Homo sapiens: one gene and its partners. The protein of the gene in region 3 interacts with the protein of the main gene of each other region in a pairwise test. Each region holds a gene or a part of one and is shown on either strand. Other genes may lie near its edges.

Region 1 (5,480 bases), on a different chromosome or scaffold from region 3:
TTCTAAAATCCTGGCTCAAAGTCCGTGGGTTTCCTGTTTAAAAGGGGCGCCATGAAAATGTAAGCTATTCCCTTTTTCCTGGAATCTTTAAGAGTCCCAGCTTTTCAATAGTCAAAATGTAGATGATTGATATCATTTCTTATATGAATAGCACTGGTTTGTAGTTCAGCACGCACAGTGAGCTGGGCACGCCCACCTGATAGTATAGCAGAGAACTTGTTTACATTCTTTTTACATTCATCTTCTAAAACCTGGGGTGCTCTCTCTCTCTCTCTCTCTCTCTCTCTCTCTGTGTGTGTGTGTGTGTGTGTGCGTGCACGTGCGCGTGTGTGTAGAGGGGGAGAGAGAGAGAGAGAGAACTGTGAACTGTGAAATATAACACAGCCAGCAGCTTTGGGTCTCAATCGTAGACTTACTCTTAAGGAAATTTACAGAATGGAAAGGTCATGTTCAAGTAGTTTATTAACATTTTGAGATGTAGGAAATTAATCCCGGAGTACAGAAGAACAATTTCAGACTTCCTGAATAAAAACAGACAGCATAGAGAGTGGATGATAGCTAAACTCTGAATATCTTTTGAGAAGAAAGGCACTCCCATTTCAGGTGCCCATAATATGGATTTGATTTTAGTGATTAAAACATTAATTTTCAACTTGCATCTCCCTGTGTGGAAGAGTTCAATTTGTGTGAGGGGTCTCGCCTATCCAACAAAAGTGAATATGTCCCTTTTATAGGGTAATTGCTAACTTGTCTCAACTTGTTTTCAAACAATTGTTATAGAGCACTCAGTTTCCACTAATTGCAAAATTGTTGCTTAATTGAAGGACTCTCAGCCATCTAGTGCAGCCATTCAGCCACTGGCAGGCTCTGTGATCTCAAACTGTGAATTGCATTTTAAAGAGGAATCGAGGAGAGAATTCTGTGGAATTCTAGGTTTTAAGTGCTGGCTGTTGTTCAATGGAAGAGGAAATCATTTGAACAAGAATCGCATCAAGTTGTGTTGTGATAAATTTTCTTTATTAGGATGAATAACATGCACAGATGAGCTTCAAAAGTGAATGAGCAAACTTACTGGTTACACTCTGCATCCATTTACTCTGTTTAGTATGGAGTAATGTTAGGCAATAAATGATGCTGGCAAATGAAATCCGTATGTTATTTGCATGTGGTATTTAAACCTAGGAAACATAGAGTGGCTTTGGTATTTGTAGGCTTAGTCATGTGTGTCCTAAACGTCCTCTTAAACTTCTACTTAAGGCATAGAATTATTTAATCCTAAATAATTTTATACTTAAGTGCCTCACTGGATTTCCAGAATATTTACACTGTAAAGATTTAGAAAGGTCATGAACCCAATTATTGACTATATGGAATCATTATTGATGGCAGATGCAAAATGGAGCTCACTAATGTACTGACATTGAAAACCTTTTGCAGGGGAGAGGAGGGGGAGTGGTAAATGTGTGTGTTCTTTAAGTGGAACAGGAAGGTATTCTCTTTTCTGTAGAAAAATTTGAGTATCTGGTCAGATAAGTGTGGAAGCTTTCATTTAAATTAAGTATTTAAGTTCAAGTAGAAGCTCTAGGGCACTTATCCTCTTGATGAGACAAATCTTATCAAATATACTAGATGCTAAGAAGTGGCTCATTGCCCTGATGTCTCATTTATAGATTGATGTTTGAGGATGGGTTGCATTAAGTGAGTTAGGGGGCTGAGTGTGGGACAGGAGAACGATTGGAAGGAAGCAAAGTAAATTTACAAGCTTTAGTGACAGCCATAATAAAGTAAAAGTTTATTTCCAGAGAGCCTAGAGAGTAAGGAACGTTATATAGTTTTCCCCAAAGGTTCACTTGAAAGAACTTTTCATTGGTTGTCATGGTAGTAATGTCCTGATTTTGAAATCTCCCAGAACCTAGTAGCTCTTAAACATGCTTTCATCTTGGTTCCTTTGGTCTGACGGAAACTTTATGACGACCCTCTGTGTTTTTGACATGCCTCTGCATTTTTGGAGAGAGGAGGTCAGGCAAGGGAGGATTTCTTAAAACTAAGACAGTATAGTAAGGAAACATAAAATTATATGATAAAAAATCACTGAACTTCAAATTGACTTACTGAAATAAAACCTAGAAGGCAACCTGTCGTTTAATTACAACTAGCTTGTATAAAATTAAAATTTATAAAATGGGAATTCAAAGAAAATAAACGGGCAGTTCCAAGTAATTTAAGCAACTCACCAAAAATTGAAGTAATAGTGCCACCTAGAGAACAAAATCACCAGCTTTACTAGCCAAATGGCTTATTTCCATATGAACCATTTTTCCAACGCTACAGTTACTAGGATTTCCTTGTTACCATATTCAGATCTTGTGAGTGTGTATGGGGGTGGGGGTTGCATGTGGAATTACAGATGAAATTTTAAAACAAGCAGATCCACAATTTGATATATGCACTAAATCCTTTTAACGTTGTAATGTAGCCAAATGTAGAATAGCATGCCAGGAATCAACGGCTAGCATCCTTTTTAACATTTATTATTTTCATGGATATGTACCAAACCGAACCATTGAGTATAAAGGTTCTGATTTTATTTATTTGCTACAGGCAATTCATTATACTTTCTGAGATACAATAACACCAAATAATTTGAGTAGAGAGACCTTTAAGAATGTTTTCGATTTATGATCTACCTTTAACTTTAATGTACTCAGAAGATGTGAGAATAAAATAAAGTCAAATATAAGCAAGATTTTAAACACACACACAAAAAACAAACAAACAAGAAAAAGGAAGAAAATTATAAGGATTGCCTTAACCTTAGAATAGATGAAGGTATACATCTGAGCCAGCACCAAAAAAAAAAAAAAAAAAAGTTATGGAACCAGGAACCAATAATTACAAATTGACTTAAAATTCTTGGATGACAAAAATCTATATTTAGTTCATTTTTGCATGCGCCCACAACAGCATCCAAAACAGTTCTGGGGAGGCACTTTGATAAATGTTGCTGAATGCACTAATAGATTGATTAATGGCTGCTTCAGATTATCACTAGTGATGTAGACAGAAACTTCATGAAAATGGTTTGTCTTGCTGGAAGAAAGGCAGAAATTGGAGGAAAAGGTTTAATAATATTTTTCCCCAGTACCTATTATAAAAGTCATTTAGTTGGCTTAGTTCTATAATTTCTTATGTGTAATTTGATTCACTTATGAAATTGTGAATATATGAAATGTTAAAGTTGATTTAGACAGCAACTATAAGCTTGTGGATTTTCTTTTAAATGTCTTCAAATTTTTAAATGCCAGTGGAGATGCCAGCGACTGTGCTTCAGGGAGTAGAATATAGTATATCTTAAATTTGTGCCAATTTCTGGTAAGCAGAGAAAAAATTGCATGATAACCAAAGAAAGTCATATTGTTTGTGCTTTGTGTTATTCATGGAAGCAATCAGGTGCAGAAAACTTTCTTTTTCAGAAAAAAAAAATTACTAAAATAAAGGTGCGTGTGTGTGTATGCACATATATCTAAAGGGAGAGAGGGAGAAGGAAACTTACTAAATAAAATTTTTGCCACATGGGATTTAGTCTAATCAGTCTTGGTTTTGGAGTTGCTATCATCAGTAGTTCCATTTTGTGATTCTTTCTTTCTGCCTTCATGTGCCTTTGAAAACTGAAACTATGCCCAAATTAAAACAAGTTTTTCTGTCTTTTCACATGTTCACTTATTTCTTGAATGTGTTTTTAAACACAGACAAACTTCTTTTACATCATGTAGAATCTGAAGGTCGAGAAATTTGCAGTCATTTTGCTGGAGAGAGATGCTTGGCGGAGTCCCAGGCCACATTCCTAGGCCAAACTCTCGAAGGTATTCCTCTTATGCAACATTGGGAAAATACATCCAGCACCGACATGTTGGCTGATAATGTGTCTGAAGGCACAGACGATATGCTTATCATATGAAACATAAAGCCAGCAGATATTGCAGACATTCTGTTGAATGATAGAATCTGGATCATTTACATTTACTTAAATGTAAAATACTATGATTAAGTACAAAAAAATCAATTTAGGAGAGAATAGAGAGTTGCGGGCACGGTTTTAGGGGATGACTTATCAGCAGATTGTAGAAAGGAAGCTTGAATGTTTTAAATTAACTGCAAGTTCAGTATAAGCCAGTGGTGTGACAAGAGGCTGTTATCATAGCTACTGAAATTTTGGGCTGCACTGCTAGAAATATAATACTGAAATGGAGAAGCTAATAATTCTTCACTTTTTAAATAGACTGTATCTAGAATATTATCATCAGTTCAAGGAAATGAAATAAGTTGTTTTAGGTACATCATCGATAAATTAGTGTACATTCAAATCACTGTGACCAGGATGCATAGGGAATTTGAAAGCATTGCATGTGAGCAATGGTTGAGGGGACTTGGAATGCATGACTTAGGGACAAGAAAACTTAGGCTGGAATGGCAAGTGGTTTTTGAATGTTGGGTTGAGAAGAATTCTAAAACTGTGAAGGATTAGTAAAAATAACATTCAGATTGCTAATGCCTACTGTGGCTGGGAGATTAGAGTGTCAACATGTGTGATGTATTTTTGACATCCTTATTTTGAGGATGGGCTTCAAAGATTTGACGAACTGTCATAAGTGTAATTTGTGTTGCTTCAGACAGCAGTTCTAGAACCAATGATGTAAATTTAGATACTCTACATGGTAGTTAGAAAACTTTCCATTAATTTAATTTAGCAAATATTGAATGCTCACTGCATACAGAGCACTTTATTAGAGGAATATATAATAAAGAAAAAAGAGGTCTGGTGTGGTGGCTCATGCCTGTAATCCCAGCACTCTGGGAGGCTGAGGTGGGAGGATCACTTGAGCCCAGGAGATCATTACGAGTCTGGACAACATAGCAAGACCCCATCTTTACAAAAGACAAAAAAAATTATCCAAGCCTGGTGACAGGCACTTGTAGTCCCAGCTACTTGGGAGGCTGAGGCAGTAGGATCGTTTGAGCCCAGGAGGTTGGGGCTGCAGTGAGCCGTGATTGTCCCACTGCTCTTCAGCCTGGGTGACAGAGTGAGACCCCGTTGGAGGGAAGGAAGGGAAGGAAGGAAGAAAGGTAGGAAGGCTGAAATGAAACCCTTTTAGAAATGACACTAAAATGGGAGGTTGGAGTAAGGTATTTTCTGAAGTGCCTTTGTACTTGTTTTTTTCTAATGCATTGGCCATAAGTCTGCTCCTTATTTATAGTCCATAAACAATCCTAATGAGAACAGTTATATATTTCTGCCTTTGAATCATCTACTTGAAGTGTTTAGCATCATGAATTGAGTATCAGAAATCCCTCCCATTTCTTTGCAAAGCGCTGTATTTTACTTTTCCTTATTTGTATACAGATTCTCAAAATTGGCTATTTTTCCTTTGGGTTAGACAGAACAGAATGTCTGGAAAAAAAAGTTCTTATCAAATTCAGGT
Region 2 (5,480 bases), about 20 Mb from region 3:
GCCACCGGTACTGCCAGAAGTCAAAACAGATTTTTTTTTAAGCATAGTTCAGTTAATGTCACTTCAAGCTTTATGGATTTTGGACGGGTATTCAACTGTGATAGCTAATGGAAGAGCTGGCACAGGGTCAAAGCTTCAGCAGTTAAAGCACCTTCCATTGGGCCCAATTACATAGATTACAACAGTGACTGACAGCTCAAAAAGGTCTGTTTCAAGTCCCTAATACCTAGTAATAGATACCAGTAAAGCCACTCGAATCACAACTAAATAGATTCTTGATGAAAATAAGACAAACTGATCTGAAGTGTTGATGGTCAGAAGAAACCTAGGAGAGGCTGACTCATCCCTGCCTCCAAAGGTCCACAGACTCGGTTTTCAGGAGCGCTATTTTTATCAACCAGGATCATGAAATGTTGTCGACATTTTATCATTCTTAATGACGTCTTTTCTGCAGTACAGTCTACTTAGGAAACTCAGACAAGTCCGCTAAAATAAACTGAGCACAGCTTGGGCTAAGCTGAAGAACTAAAGGAAGAAAGAGACTTAACAACAAATCTTACAGCAGCCCTGAGCTATCAAATTCCAGGCTTTGGAGATGCCCAGTGTCCGAAGCACCCTCACTCTTGTGTTCTCTGGGAAAAGGATGACAACTGAACTGTGACATTAGCTCTGGTGACAGGCTTACAGCTCAGACTGTTCATAATTCAGGAACAGTGGCATCAGAGAAAACAGACTCGGAATAAAAAATCAAGACCAATGGTTTCCCTCATCTACAGCGCAGACTTTACCCATGTATATCAGCAGAGGGCAGTGTCGGACTGTTCAAATGCTGCAGACCCACACTAAGAAAAGGGTCCAAATGTGTTGCAGTACAACATACATTAATGTGTGTGCATCTATTGCATTTATATAAAACTTGATGTTGGCCAGGCGCGGTGGCTCACGCCTGTAATCCTAGCACTTTGGGAGGCCAAGGTGGGCAGATCACCTGAGGTCGGGAGTTTGAGACCAGCCTGACCAACATGGAGAAATCCCGTCTCTACTAAAAATACAAAATTAGCTGGGCGTAGTGGCGCATGCCTGTAATCCCAGCTACTCGGGATGCTGAGGCAGGAGAATCTCTTGAACCCGGGAGGCAGAGGTTGCAGTGAACTGAGATCGCGCCATTGCACTCCAGCCTGGGCAACAAGAGCGAAATCCATCTCAAAAAACAAAACAAAACAAAACAAAAAACTTGATATTTTAAGTATGCACAAAGTTCAGGAGGTTTCCAATCTACAGTTTTTACTTAATTTAACCTAAAATTCCAGGTTCAAAAGAACTTTACAAAAGAAAAACATAAAAGATAACGTGCATTGAGACTTCACAGTTACTTTCTCACAGGTACGATTCAGGTACGATTCTTCATCCAGAATTACCCCTTATATGCACTATGATGTTCTGATTCTGCCTGAATTTGAAACAAATGGTACTGACAGAGAGAGTATGGGAGGAAGAAACACCCACGAAAGGATGGGCAGAATTTGCAAGCTTCACTTAACAAAAGCTATGAGTTTTTTTTTCTTGCCTTAATATCACAACATATCTTTTTAAAGGAGGAAGTGTAATCAAGGAAGTAGTTTTCCCAAATGGTATTCCAATTGCCCAGGTGCTGAGTAGTAGCAGCTGGTAACTGACTTCTCAGCATCATGAAATTTCTTTACAGTCTTAAAACAAGTAATTGAAATATTTTTGGTACAAATCCTGAGACATATAACTTCAGTTCATTTTTAAAAAATGGTTCCAAATGAGAATTCAACAAAACTGAAAATCACCAAATTACACTCAGAAAGCTGTAATTCACAAAATTAATAGCAGATTTGACAGAGATGACATCTCACATGCATTTACCTTCATGGAAGCTTTTAGCTCAGAAGCGTCATACTGAGCAGGTGTCTTCAATAGGCCCAAAATCACCGTCTCCAGGTGGCCAGATAAGGCTGACTTCAGTGCTGATGCAAGTTCCTTCAAGATAACAGGCAATCATAAGGAAAATATTTATTTTACTTTAAAACTAGTGAGTAAAACAAAAGTAAGAGGGATCTTTTTGTGAAGCAGGTTGTGAGTCTTTGACCACTCCGGAGTCTTGGGTCAAACGCCCTCAACTGCATTCCCTTCAACAGACCCACATCTCAGAAACATAAACATCAGGCTTTGCTTCAACGAAATTCCTTAAAATCCAAGTTAATTTTGCCGTCTTCCCCGGTCAATAAAAGGAAACTGGAGTCGTATGTGATTCCTAAGAAAGCTGTGAGAGTGCAGGCACTTTGCAATATGCTTGAAAGCAGTAACACTCCGTGGAAGGCAGGACGCTTTCGGAGATCAAGGCCCCTGCTAAGAAGGAGATGTTTGAGCAGACAGCCTCCTGGCAAGCAGATCTTGTGGCCTCCCGATATACTGTAAAAGACGTGGGGGCAGCCATTCCAGCGGCAGCTCCTCAAAGTCACCAGAAGGAACCAGAGGCCGCAACACAGTTGGAAGTGAGGTCATGAAACTTTCCTATGCAAAACACTTCATCTAATACTGAGAAAATATCTCCTTGTCCACACCAAACTCGGACGGTGTTTAATGGAAGTGATAGGAAACTAACACCCCCGAACTGGCCCCCTTGAATTCCCTGCTGCATGTAATTTCTTAAGGGTTGGATCCACTGTCACCATGAACACAAAAATTTGTCAGAGGTCTGGTCAGCACCCATGTATGTAGACAGACACCCCAACTCAATGTGTCTTTTAGCGATGCTTCCTCGAGCTAAACTTCCTACAAATCATGGCTGATGACTGAAGCCTCCTACTGAAATAATGTTCTTCTTTTCGCTTTTTTTTTTTTCTTCTCTCTCTTCTTTCTTTCCTTGCTTTCTAAGAGCACCTGTGGCATCTACAAAGCTTAGCCCCTACAGGTACTTGCAGGCTACGAGAGGTGATTTGCAGCATGCTTCAGAGACAACCATGCTGAATCATTCGTAGATGTCAAAAGTGTTAGAACTGACATGGATCTTAGAAGCCACCTGGCTTTCACCACCCATTTTCTCCTGCTTCCCAATGTCCCGGGAACACACGGCACTTAGGAGGGGACTGTAAAAGCAGTAGCTCCCAATTATAACACCAGTCTCCCAGTTTGGAACTTTGAGGTTAGGTAACTCCAAACTTAGCCTACCCTTGACACTCCCCTCTACCCATTCTCTATTCAAACCTCAAATAGCATTTGGGCACCTACTGACTTCTTCCACTTCTATTCTAAACTCCTTATGGGCGTTCAACTTCCTGTTTCTCACAATGTCCAGCACAGAGCTTTGCATTTAACAAAAACTAAACAAAAACTCCAGAAATGTATGATAAATCAAACATAACCCTTCCCTGTAAGGAGAAGCCTCGCATCTGGCGTCTGCTAGAACATGAAAGAGTCGTAAAAGCAGCTGTCTCTCCCAGCTCCTCTCCACTCTGCCAGCCGGGCCTAGGTTCTTCAAGCTCATCACCTGGGCAGCTGCAGCCCGTATCCCTAAAGAACTCTGCAGCACAAATCTTCCTTATTTCACAAATTTTCTTCTTTATTTCACAAACAGCCGATTGTTTCACTTGAAACTATCTCAAGTAGTTTACATATCTTTTATAAAAGATACATAATTCTCCTTGGCCTAAGGCTGAGAGTCAAGAATTAGTAGGATGATGAGCTGTCCCCAGCACACAGCAAAGCCTGTGAGATCTTGGGACCTCATCATAATTCTGGTAATATCTTCCCTCCTAGAGGGTATGTGGGAGCTTTGTTCTACATATATCTAATCTAAAACCAAGATCTAGGTTTTGGGTGTGGTGGCTTATGACTGTAATCCCAGCAGTTTGGGAGGCTGAGATGAATCATTTGAGTCCACATGGCAGAAGTTGCAGTAAGCCGAATCACACCACTGCAATCAAGCCTGGGTGACAGAGCAAGACCCTGTCACAAAAAAAAAAAAAAAAAAAAAAAAAAAAAGTTTCAGGCTTCTATGTGTGTGTGTACACACCCAAATGTATTCCAAGACCATACTCTGTGACAGCTGAAAGATCAAATTTTTTGCTTGCTATCCAGAGATGAGCCTTCTGCTCCACTGGGAACTTGGCTCTACCAGCTCACAGACCCCTTTGGGAAGCTGCAGAAATAAAACACTCCCCTCTATGCCTCACTACACAAGATTAATACACTTCTAGTGAAAGAAGAATTTTAATGCACTTGAGATGAAAGAAGCCAGATGCTTTCCTATTTATGTCCTTTCCAACCATTTAGAGTGCGGGGGATGGAAGTGTAGCAAGGCTTGACCTGCAACTCCCAGGACCCTGCTGGTCATGTCAATCCCAAGGGCAGAAATATCTCTTCTAGAATCCTTCCAGCTCACCTCCACTGTGGCTACAAGTGAAAGCCATAAGTCAAACGGGAGCTGCAGGAAGCCACACTTACTGCACTGTCCAAGAATAAATCAAAAGCTTTTAATAGCAAGAAGTTAAAAATAAAGCAGCACGTCCTTAAAAATAAAATTTCCTACAACTGACAAAATAAAGGACGAACACGCACTGGTTGTTTCTTAACCACTAGTGGACAAGCAAAGGGAAAAAGCACACAAAGACCCTTTAAATAGTAGGAGCATGGCATGTTGAAGATAGCTTTGCAGACCAAATGAACTAACAACTAAGCCCACTCGTTGCAAAAAGCTTAAGAATTCAAGTGTATATTTTTAAAATGAGAGGAGCTTGTTAGGATCAACACTCAGTGGAGGCTAGTATCCTAAAATTAAATTAGAAACATCTTATCAAGAACCAGCAGAAGTCATAAAGATGAAATGAGTTGCTACATGTACAAAACTGAGCACAGTGCCTGGCCCAAAGTAAGCACTCAATAAATGGTGCCTGTTGTTGTTATTGTTGTTGTTCCCTATTCCTAACTTTCTATTCCCAGAAGCTCTCCCTCCAGGTAGCCTGGGTTGGGGGAGGGTACTGTCCTTACACAGGAGCTCCCAAGCACTCTAAAGCGAGCGTGACCATCTGCGCTCTGCCTCCTCTCAGATCAACGGTGGCATGAGATTCTCACAGAAGCGCGAACCCTACTGTGAACTGCACACGCGAGGGATCTATGTTGTACACTCCTTATGAGAACCTAATGCCTGATGACCTGAGGTGCACGCGCGCGTGCACACACGCACACACACATGTGCAGTGACTCTTACAAGGATTTAAGAAGAAAATCTTAGATATCCAAGGGTCCCACAAGTCTTTTGCGCATGAGAGCCACAATTCATGAAAAGAAAAAGCAATGTCTGAGGAAACAAAAATTCAACAAGAAATGCCCTCCATCCCTGGAATTGCCTGTACCTTTTTGGTCCTTCTCTGGTAGGCGAAGGCAATATCCTGTCTCTGTGCATTGCTGCGGTTGGTCAAAATGTTGACAATGGTGACCTCATCCACACCTATGGA
Region 3 (5,480 bases):
TGTCTTTTTTCAACTCCTTGAAAATAATCTCTCTGAGGAGTAAGTGGTTTTTTCTTTTTGTTACAGTAACATGAAGTGGTTTCCAAATCTCATGAGAAAGAATTAGAGAAAATGATGAAAGATCCAACGGTTCATTAGATATTAAAATTGACTTGATGAGAACTCAATAAGAGACCTTTAAAATCTCTATGTGTGATTAAATTCTTAATAAAAAGAATCTCCCAACATTTTTTAAAGTTGCTCAACTTGTGGCCTAGATGTTGGAGTCTAATAAAAACAAATGTCTTCTAATCCCATGACAGTGCTCCATATGGCTTCTTGATGATAGAGGTTAAATTACTCTTGTTTGCATTTTAACTCTAATTGTTTAACAGATTTCCCCTTTCGAAGAATACAAGAAAGGACATCACCATTTACCGTCTGCCTTAATTTAGTTTGCCTTCAACTATAAGTACATAGGTTAATGATGGCATGGTGGGGTGGTGAACATCAAGCTTAGAACCAATAGAAACTATGATTTGCAGTTCTGTTTTCATTTCTAAAAAAGTCACATCAGCTAACACCCACTGATCAAAACAAATACCTTTTGTTCCTGTTATTACCACCATGAGCTCACCCATGTAAAAAAAACCTGCAGTTGATAAATGTTAAATATTTGCAGGGTTTGTTTTCTCCTTGAGGATATAAAAAGGGTTATCCATAGCATACATTTAAGTTTTTAATTATTGCTGTTATCAGTGGATTCTCTTTGATATAGGTTATTTAACAATAAAAACAATCTTCATATTGTCTGGCCTCAGTTGTCAAAGTGGAAGGTACTCTTTTGGGCCGGAAAAGGTCTTCCTCTCTCTAAGTATGCTGAGTCCCTGGTCAGGTGTGATTTCAATAGGGCAAGCAGAAACAGGCACTAACACGTCCCTTCTGCCGCTGTCTCCCAGTCCATGCCATAGGCAACAGAAATGACTCTTATTTTCTTCAGAGATGAAAACTTCTTAACTGACTTTAGAGAAGATCATTAACTTTCCAAGCCAGTCTTCACTAATCAAAATCATCACTGTCTTCATTACACTTTTTCTTTCTTTCTTTTTTTTTTTGAGACGGAGTCTCGCTCTGTCACCCAGGCTGGAGTGCAGTGGCACGATCTCACTCAGCTCACTGCAAGCTCCGCCTCCTGGGTTCAAGCGATTCTCCTGCCTCAGCCTCCCAAGTAGCTGAGATTACAGGCGCACACCATCACACGTGGCTAATTTTTGTATTTTTAGTAGAAACAGGATTTTGTCATGTTGGCCAGGATGGTCTTGAACTCCTGACCTCATGTGATCTGCCTGCCTCGGCCTCCCAAATTGCTCTCTCTCTTTCTCTTCCTTCCTCTCTCTCTTTCTCAACAAGGTCTTGCTCTGTCACCCAGGCTGGAGTGCAGTGGCATGATCACAGCTCACTGTAACCTTGAACAACTGCTAGGCTCAAGCAATCCTCCCACCTCAGCCCCCTGGTAGCTGAGATTACAGGCATCTACCACTTCAGGCTAATTTTTAAAAATGTATTTGTAAAGACAGTCTCACTATGTTGCCCAGGCTGGTCTCAAACTCTTGGCCTACACGTGACCCTCCCACATCGGCCTCTCAGAGCGCTGGGATTATAGGTGTGAGCCACCATGCCTGACTTTCATGAAAGTTTCTTAGAAGCCCTTGTCATACAGCACCAACAAGCCAAGGGATCTCGTTCTATAGCTTTATCCAATTGTTGCCTCTTCTCCTTATCATCATTAAACAGATGCTTTGGCTACCACATGCAGAATTTTCATCCCCTAGGCCATGGCTGCAAGCATTGCTATCCTATCTTTGGTGGCTTCCTGGCAAATTTCACATTACTCCCTATCTTTCTATCACTCCACCTATGTTTTTCTCATATCTTTTTCCTCCAGTACATCATTAACAAAATCCCTTTTGTTTTTGCAAGATATTTCTTAGCTATCATGCAAGCTCTCTTCTGACTCTTCTTTCTGTCTTTCCTCAGAAGCTCCTTCTACCTGAATTGCCTTTCCTTCCTCAAAAAATTATTCCCAGGTTTGTAGCTGATCTTCGACAAAGCATATAACAACACAAATTGGGGAAAGGACATCCTATGTAACAAATGGTTCTGGGAAAACTGGCTAGCCACCTGTAGAAGAATAAAACTAGATCCCTATCTCTCACCTTATACAAAAATCAACTCAAGATGGATATAAGACTTGAAATCTTCAAAATTCTAAAAGAAAACCTAGGAAAAACTCTTCCAGACATTGGCCTAGGCAATTTTTATTTTGAGATGGAGTCTCGCTCTGTTGCCCAGGCTAGAGTGCAGTGGTGCGATTTCAGCTCACTGCAACCTCTGCCTCCTGGGTTCAAGCGATTCTCCTGTCTCAGCCTCCCGAGTAGCTGGGACTATAGGTGTGCGCCACCACGCCCAGCTAATTTGTGTATTTTTATTAGAGACAGGGTTTCACCATGTTGGCCAGGATGGTCTCGATCTCTTGACCTTGTGATCTGCCTGCCTCGGTCTCCCAAAGTGCTGGGATTACAGGCGTGAGCCACCGTGCCCGGCCTAGGCAAAAAATTTATGACTAAGATCCCAAAAGTAAATGCAACAATAACAAAAATAAATAAATCGGATCTAATTAAACTAAAAACTTCCGTACAGCAAAAGAAATAATCAGAGTAAACAGACAACCCATGGAATGGGAGAAAGTATTTGCAAACTATGTATCTAACAAAGGACTAATATCCAGAATCTACAAGGTGCTCAAACAAATCAGAAAGAAAAAAACAATCCCATCAAAAAGTGGGCAAATGACATGAATAGACATTTCTCAATGGGATTTGAGAAGATATACAAATGGCTAACAAACATATGAAAAAATGCTCAAAATCACTAATCATCAGGGAAATGCAAGTCAAAATGGTGAGCTACCACCTCACCCCAGCCAGAATGGCCACTATTAAAAAGTCAAAAGACAATAGATGTTGGCACGGATGTGGTAAAAAGAGAATCCTTATACACTGCTGATGGGAATGTAAATCAGTACAACCTCTATGGAAAACATATGGAGATTTCTCAAAGAACTAAGAGTAAATCTACCATTTGATCCAGCAATCCCACTACGAGGTGTTTACCCAAAGGAAAAGAAGTCGTTATATCAAAAAGATACCTGCACGCATGTTTCATAATTCATAATTGCAAAGATATGGAACCAACCTAAGTGCCCATCGAGCAATGAGTAGATAAAGAAAATATGGAATATATACACCATAGAACACTACTCAGCCATAAGAAATAATAAAATAATGTCTTCTGCAGCAACTTAGATGGAGCTGGAGGCCATTATCCTCTAAGTGAAGTAACTCAGGAATGGAAAACAAAATGCCATACGTTCTCACTTATAAGTGGGAGCTAAGCTATGGGTACACAAAGGTATACAAAGTGGTATATTGGCCGGGCACGGTGGCTCACACCTGTAATCCCAGCACTCTGGGAGGCCGAGGTGGGTGGATCACGAAGTCAGGAGTTCGAGACCACTCTGACCAACATGGTGAAACTCTCTATCTACTGAAAATACAAAAATGAGCCAGGCGTGGTGGTGGGCGACTGTAATCCCAGCTACTCAGGAGGCTGAGGCAGCAGAATTGCTTGAACCCGTGAGGCGGAGGTTGCAGTGAGTCGAGATCGTGCCACTGCATTCCAGCCTGGGCAACAGAATGAGACTCCGTCTCAAAAAAAAAAAACAAAACAACAACCAAAAAAAAAACAAAACACAAAGTGGTATACTGGACTTTGGAGATTCAGAAGTGGGGAGGTTTGGAGAGGGGTGAGGGATAAAAAACTACACATTGGGTACAATGTCCACTACTTGGGTGATGGGTGCACTAAAATCTCAGACTTCACCACTATACAATTAATCCATGTAGCCAAAAACCGCTTGTACACCAAAAGCTATTGAAATAAAAAAATTAGGGCCAAGCGCGGTGGCACACGCCTGTAATCCCAGCACTTCAGGAGGCCAAGGTAAGCCTTATTCCCAGGTTTGGCTTTGTGAAACATGGATGAATCTCATGGTTGTTCCACAATAAAAGGATATTACAATTCTAAAGACTGCCCCTCACCGCCCTAGACTGATATTTCTTTTTCCCCTAGCATGGGACAATTTGAATCTCTTTCCTGTGTTTGGAATCTCTCTAGATACTTATACTATGGCCGCAGGACAGGGTACTGAAAATGTGTTCAGGAAATATTTTTAAAATAAAATGGCTAACAAGAGGCAGAATGAATCTTATGTCAATATGCTCCCATTCTCAACAATCAATCTATTTATGTAAGTTTTTCAAACTCCAGCATCAGAAATCCACATGTAGCCCTGGGGCCATCACATTTTCTTGCAGGATGGCATAAGGTTTAACACTTTTGAGTTATTTGAATATACGGGCAACCAACAGTAGGCAAGAGGGTTCTACAGAATGCCAAGAAATCAAACACAGAATTTAGATGAACTGGGCAGAGGCAGGAAGTGACAAAAACTGTTTTAAGAGCTGTTCGGGTAGTCACGGCGGCTCATGCCTGTAATCCCAGCACTTTGGGATGCCGAGGCAGGTGGATCACCTGAGGTCAGGCATTCGAGACCAGCCTAGCCAACATGGTGAAATGAAACCCCATCTCTACTAAAAATACAAAAAATTAGCCGGGCATTGTGCCAGGCGCCTGTAATCCCAGCTACTCGGTAGGCTGAGGCAGGAAAATCGCTTGAACCCGGGAGGTGGAGGTTGCCATGAGCTAAGATCACGCCACTGCACTCCAGCCTGGGCAACAAGAGTGAAAGTCTCAAAAAATTAAAAATAAAAATAAAAAAAGATCTGTTCAAGGAAAAGGGGGCTGCTTCCCAACAGCCGGCTTGAAACATCCCTTGGAATTATATCTGACAGATACGTGTGACAGGAATAACAACAACACAAAAGAATAGGAAACCAAGTTTGATGTAACAGAACTTCAATATGCTTCCCTAGAGCCGTCAAACTTACCTAGAGATGCTAAATACACTTCTGAATCCTGCAAGGGAGCCCAAGGCTTTACAGCTGGCTGGACAGCAAAGTCAGCCACCTCCCTCTGGCCTTCACCTTCAGGGCAAGAATCCACAAAGGAGTCTGAGAATGCATTGTTGGCACCATCTTCTTGTTCAGGATTTGGCAGACAGGAACAAATTTCAGCCCAGAGATCCTGGCCAGATCTTGTGGCTGTAGAGTCAGCGCTCTCAAACATTTTCATTTGGAATCTGAGCTATAAAACAGAAGCTCAAGTGAGTAAGAACTGGCTTTAAGAATACAGCATAAGGTTGAGCACAGTGGCTCACGACTGTAATCCCAACACTTTGGGAAGCCGAGGCAGTCAGATCATTTGAGGCCAGCAGTTCGAGACCAGCCTGGGAAACATGGCAAAATCCCATCTCTACTAAA
Region 4 (3,293 bases), on a different chromosome or scaffold from region 3:
ACCCATCTCTACTAAAAATACAAAAGTTAGCCAGGTGTGGTAGGGTACACCTATGATCCCAGCTGCTCGGGAGGCTGAGGCACGAGAATGGCTTGAGCTCAGGAGGCAGAGGCTGCAGTGAGCTGAGATCACACCACTGCACTTCAGTCTGGGCAACAGAGCAAGACTCTGTCACACACACACACACACACACACACACACACACACACACACACACACTTTGGGAGGCCACAGGTGGGCAGATCACAAGGTCAGGAGATCAAGACCAGCCTGGCTAACACAGTGAAACCCCATCAAAAAAAAAAAAAAAAAAAAAGAAGACTAAAGACTAAAAAAGGAATGAGGCCAGGCACCGTGGCTCACACCTGTAATCCCAGCACTTTGGGAGGCCAAGACAGCAGGATGGCTTGAGTCCAAGAGCTCAAGACCAGCCTGGGCAACATAGTGAGACCCCCCATCTCCATAATTCTGTTTTTTTTTTAAAAAGAAATGACAATTTGTAGAGCAATGAACACAATACCATTTATATATGATACACAAGACAAACATATTTGAAAGGTACATCCACAAGTATGCAAACATTCAAAGTTCTGGAAAGACACACATTAAGCCATGACAACCACAGAAGGGCTAAGGAAAATTTCCATGTTGAAACACTTCTGGGGCCAGGTGTGATAGCTCACGCCTGTGATCCCAGCACTTTGGGAGGCCAAGGTAGGCAGATTACCTGAGGTCAAGGAGTTCAAGACCAGCCTGGTCAACATGGTGAAACCTTGTCTCTACTAAAAATACAAAAATTAGCCTGGCGTGGTGGTGTGCGCCTGTAGTCCCAGCTACTCAAGAGGCTGAGGCAGGAGAATCACTTGAACCCGGGAGGTGGAGGTTGCAGTAAGCCGAGGTCGCACCACTGAACTCCAGCCTGGGTGACAGAGCGAGACTCTGTCTCAAAAAAAGAAAAAAATTAGCCGGGCATGCTGGCACATGCCTGTAATCCCAGCTACTCAGGAGGCTGAGGCAGGAGAAGCGCTTGAGCCCCGGAGATGGAGGTTGCAGTGAGCCAAGGTCGCACCACTGCACTCCAGCCTGGGCAATAGACAGAGGAGGGAAGGGTAGGGGAAGGGGAAGGGGAAGGGGAAGGGGAAAGGGAAAGGGAAAAGGAAAGGGAAGGGAAGGGAAGGGAAGAAAATAAACACTTCTAGATCACCTGAGTTTTTTTTACATTCCTTTGGTATTTGCAAAATAAATAAAAAACTACGAAACAAATATACTGAGATCCTCCTATCTCCATCCCAACCCGGATGCCCCAGCATCAAGGGTCGAACGGGACCTCCATTCAGCCCCATTCCAGGGCCTGAATCTCCAGGGAGTCCCTGCAGGGATCTCACTACCTCTCAGCTGTGTTGCTTCACTATTTGAGAATCAAGTTCTTTCCCAGGCGAATGAGAATCCCAATTGGCCTAAACTGTTTCCAGATCCCCCGAGGCTCCTGGGTCTCCACGCAGCTTGGGTGCGACTTCCCTGGATCCCGTCACTTGCCCACACAGAAGTCCTGGAAGATGATGTCCAGGATCTCCTCGGTACCCCCTCCACCTGTGAGCCGGGTCAGGTGACCCCGGGCCACCCGCAGCGCCTCTGCCGCCAGGGCCAGGTCTTTTGACTGCTTGTAGTGGCCGAGGGCATCCAGGCAACCCTGGAGGTGGTGCTGGTGCCTTGCTCGGGTCAGCAGCGGGGGATCTGTGGACGGGTCCCCACACCTGGAAGAGACAAGAGACATGGTCTCTCCCGACCTTTTACAACCATCCCTTGAAGGGGAAATGGTTGTACCCATTTTGTAGGTTCAGAAATTGAAGTTGAGGGACCCACACTTAAACTGTGGGTCAGGGGAGGCTGGGAGTGGGAGGGGGCTCACACTGCAGCTAGCTCCTTCCTCAGCGCCTCCAGGAGGCCGTCCAGCCCCTCTCCCGTCAGACAGGACAGCAGCAGGTGCGGGGGCAGGTCAGGACCGGGACCTGGGCCCTCCGGGGACAGCAGGTCCGACTTGTTCAGCACCAGGAGGAGGCGCTGGCTGCTGTCACTGGGGCTCTGGGCTCCCACAGAGGCTACGACGGTGGCCAGGAAGTTGCAACTGGAGGGAGAGGCCAGGTCAGAAGCATCCAGCATGGCCAGAATGAGGTCAGCCTGCTCTAGCCTGCGGGAGCAAGGTCAACTGAGCGGGGATCCCAGGTTGAGCAATTGAAGGCACTGGGTGGAGGGACAGTTAGAGGGGCCAGGCAGAGCACTGGGGGAGCTGCGAAGCGTGAGGTCGGGAGGGAGGAGTAGAGTACCAGGGGACCGGCAGAATGTTGGGGGCCCAAGCCGAGCACAGGGGGTGGGGCAGAGCAAGAGGGGCGGGGCACAGTGCAGGGGGAAGGGCAGAGCAAGAGGAGCGGTCACGGTGCGGGAGCGGGGCAGAGCAGGAGGGGCTGGGCACAGTGCAGTGAGTAGGGCAGGGCAGGAGGGGCGGGGCACAGCACAGGAGGGCGGGGCAGAGCAAGAGGGGCAGAGCACTGTGCAGGGGGAAGAGCAGAGCAAGAGGGACAGGGCACAGCACAGGGGCTGGGACAGAGCAAAAGGGGCCGGGTACAGCACTGGAGTGGGGCGACCATGAGTGGCGGGGCAGAGCAAGAAGGACCAGACACACCACAGGGTAAGGGGTAGAGAGCACCAGGGGTGGGGCAGAATGTAGGGGGTGGACAGAGCACAGGGGATGGGATAGACCGCAAGGGGCAGAGCGGAGTGCCAGGGCGGGACAGAGCACGAGAGGGCGGGGCAGAACGTGAGGGCTGGGCGGAGGGCTTAGGGATGAGAAACATGTCCGGAGGGCCGGGGGCAGGACTTAATCAGAACTAAATCACTGGCCGGGCACAGTGGCTAACGCCTGTAATCCCAGCACTTTGGGAGGCCGAGGCAGGCGGGTCACCTGAGATCAGGAGTTCGAGACCAGCCTGGCCAACATGGTGAAACCCCCATCTCTACTAAAAATACAAAAAATTAGCCTGGCATTGTGGTGGGCGCCTCTAATCCCAGCTACTCGGGAGGCCCAGGCAGAAGAATCACTTGAACCCGAGAGGCGGAGGTTGCAGTGAGCCGAGATTGTACCACTGCACACTCCAGCCTGGGCAACAAGAGCGAAACTCCGTCTCAAAAACAAAAACAAAACACCAGGCCAGGTGCGGTGGGCTCACAACACTTTGGGAGGCCGAGGCTCAGGAGTTAGAGACCAACCTGGCCAACATAGTGAAACCTCATCTCTA

Evidence for each region.
Region 1: the proteins of CCDC32 (region 3) and BDNF interact in binary tests that used the Homo sapiens proteins (3 or more experiments, as listed by UniProt).
Region 2: the proteins of CCDC32 (region 3) and ANXA2 interact in a two-hybrid assay, tested with the Homo sapiens proteins (one study listed by BioGRID).
Region 4: the proteins of CCDC32 (region 3) and GTPBP3 interact in binary tests that used the Homo sapiens proteins (3 or more experiments, as listed by UniProt).

Annotation. Positions count from the first base shown.
Region 1 is NC_000011.10:27,691,976-27,697,455, reverse strand, and holds part of BDNF (neurotrophic factor BDNF precursor form isoform a preproprotein), read left to right. Parts: intron 1-5,480. UniProt on the Homo sapiens protein: Important signaling molecule that activates signaling cascades downstream of NTRK2. During development, promotes the survival and differentiation of selected neuronal populations of the peripheral and central nervous systems.
Region 2 is NC_000015.10:60,359,051-60,364,530, forward strand, and holds part of ANXA2 (annexin A2), read right to left. Parts: intron 5,474-5,480; coding exon 5,379-5,473; intron 2,005-5,378; coding exon 1,891-2,004; intron 1-1,890. UniProt on the Homo sapiens protein: Calcium-regulated membrane-binding protein whose affinity for calcium is greatly enhanced by anionic phospholipids. It binds two calcium ions with high affinity. May be involved in heat-stress response.
Region 3 is NC_000015.10:40,557,724-40,563,203, forward strand, and holds part of CCDC32 (coiled-coil domain-containing protein 32), read right to left. Parts: intron 5,305-5,480; 5' UTR 5,293-5,304; coding exon 5,049-5,292; intron 1-5,048. UniProt on the Homo sapiens protein: Regulates clathrin-mediated endocytsois of cargos such as transferrin probably through the association and modulation of adaptor protein complex 2 (AP-2). Has a role in ciliogenesis. Required for proper cephalic and left/right axis development.
Region 4 is NC_000019.10:17,339,939-17,343,231, reverse strand, and holds the end of GTPBP3 (5-taurinomethyluridine-[tRNA] synthase subunit GTPB3, mitochondrial), read right to left. Parts: intron 2,189-3,293; coding exon 1,910-2,188; intron 1,755-1,909; coding exon 1,529-1,754; 3' UTR 501-1,528; downstream 1-500. UniProt on the Homo sapiens protein: GTPase component of the GTPBP3-MTO1 complex that catalyzes the 5-taurinomethyluridine (taum(5)U) modification at the 34th wobble position (U34) of mitochondrial tRNAs (mt-tRNAs), which plays a role in mt-tRNA decoding and mitochondrial translation.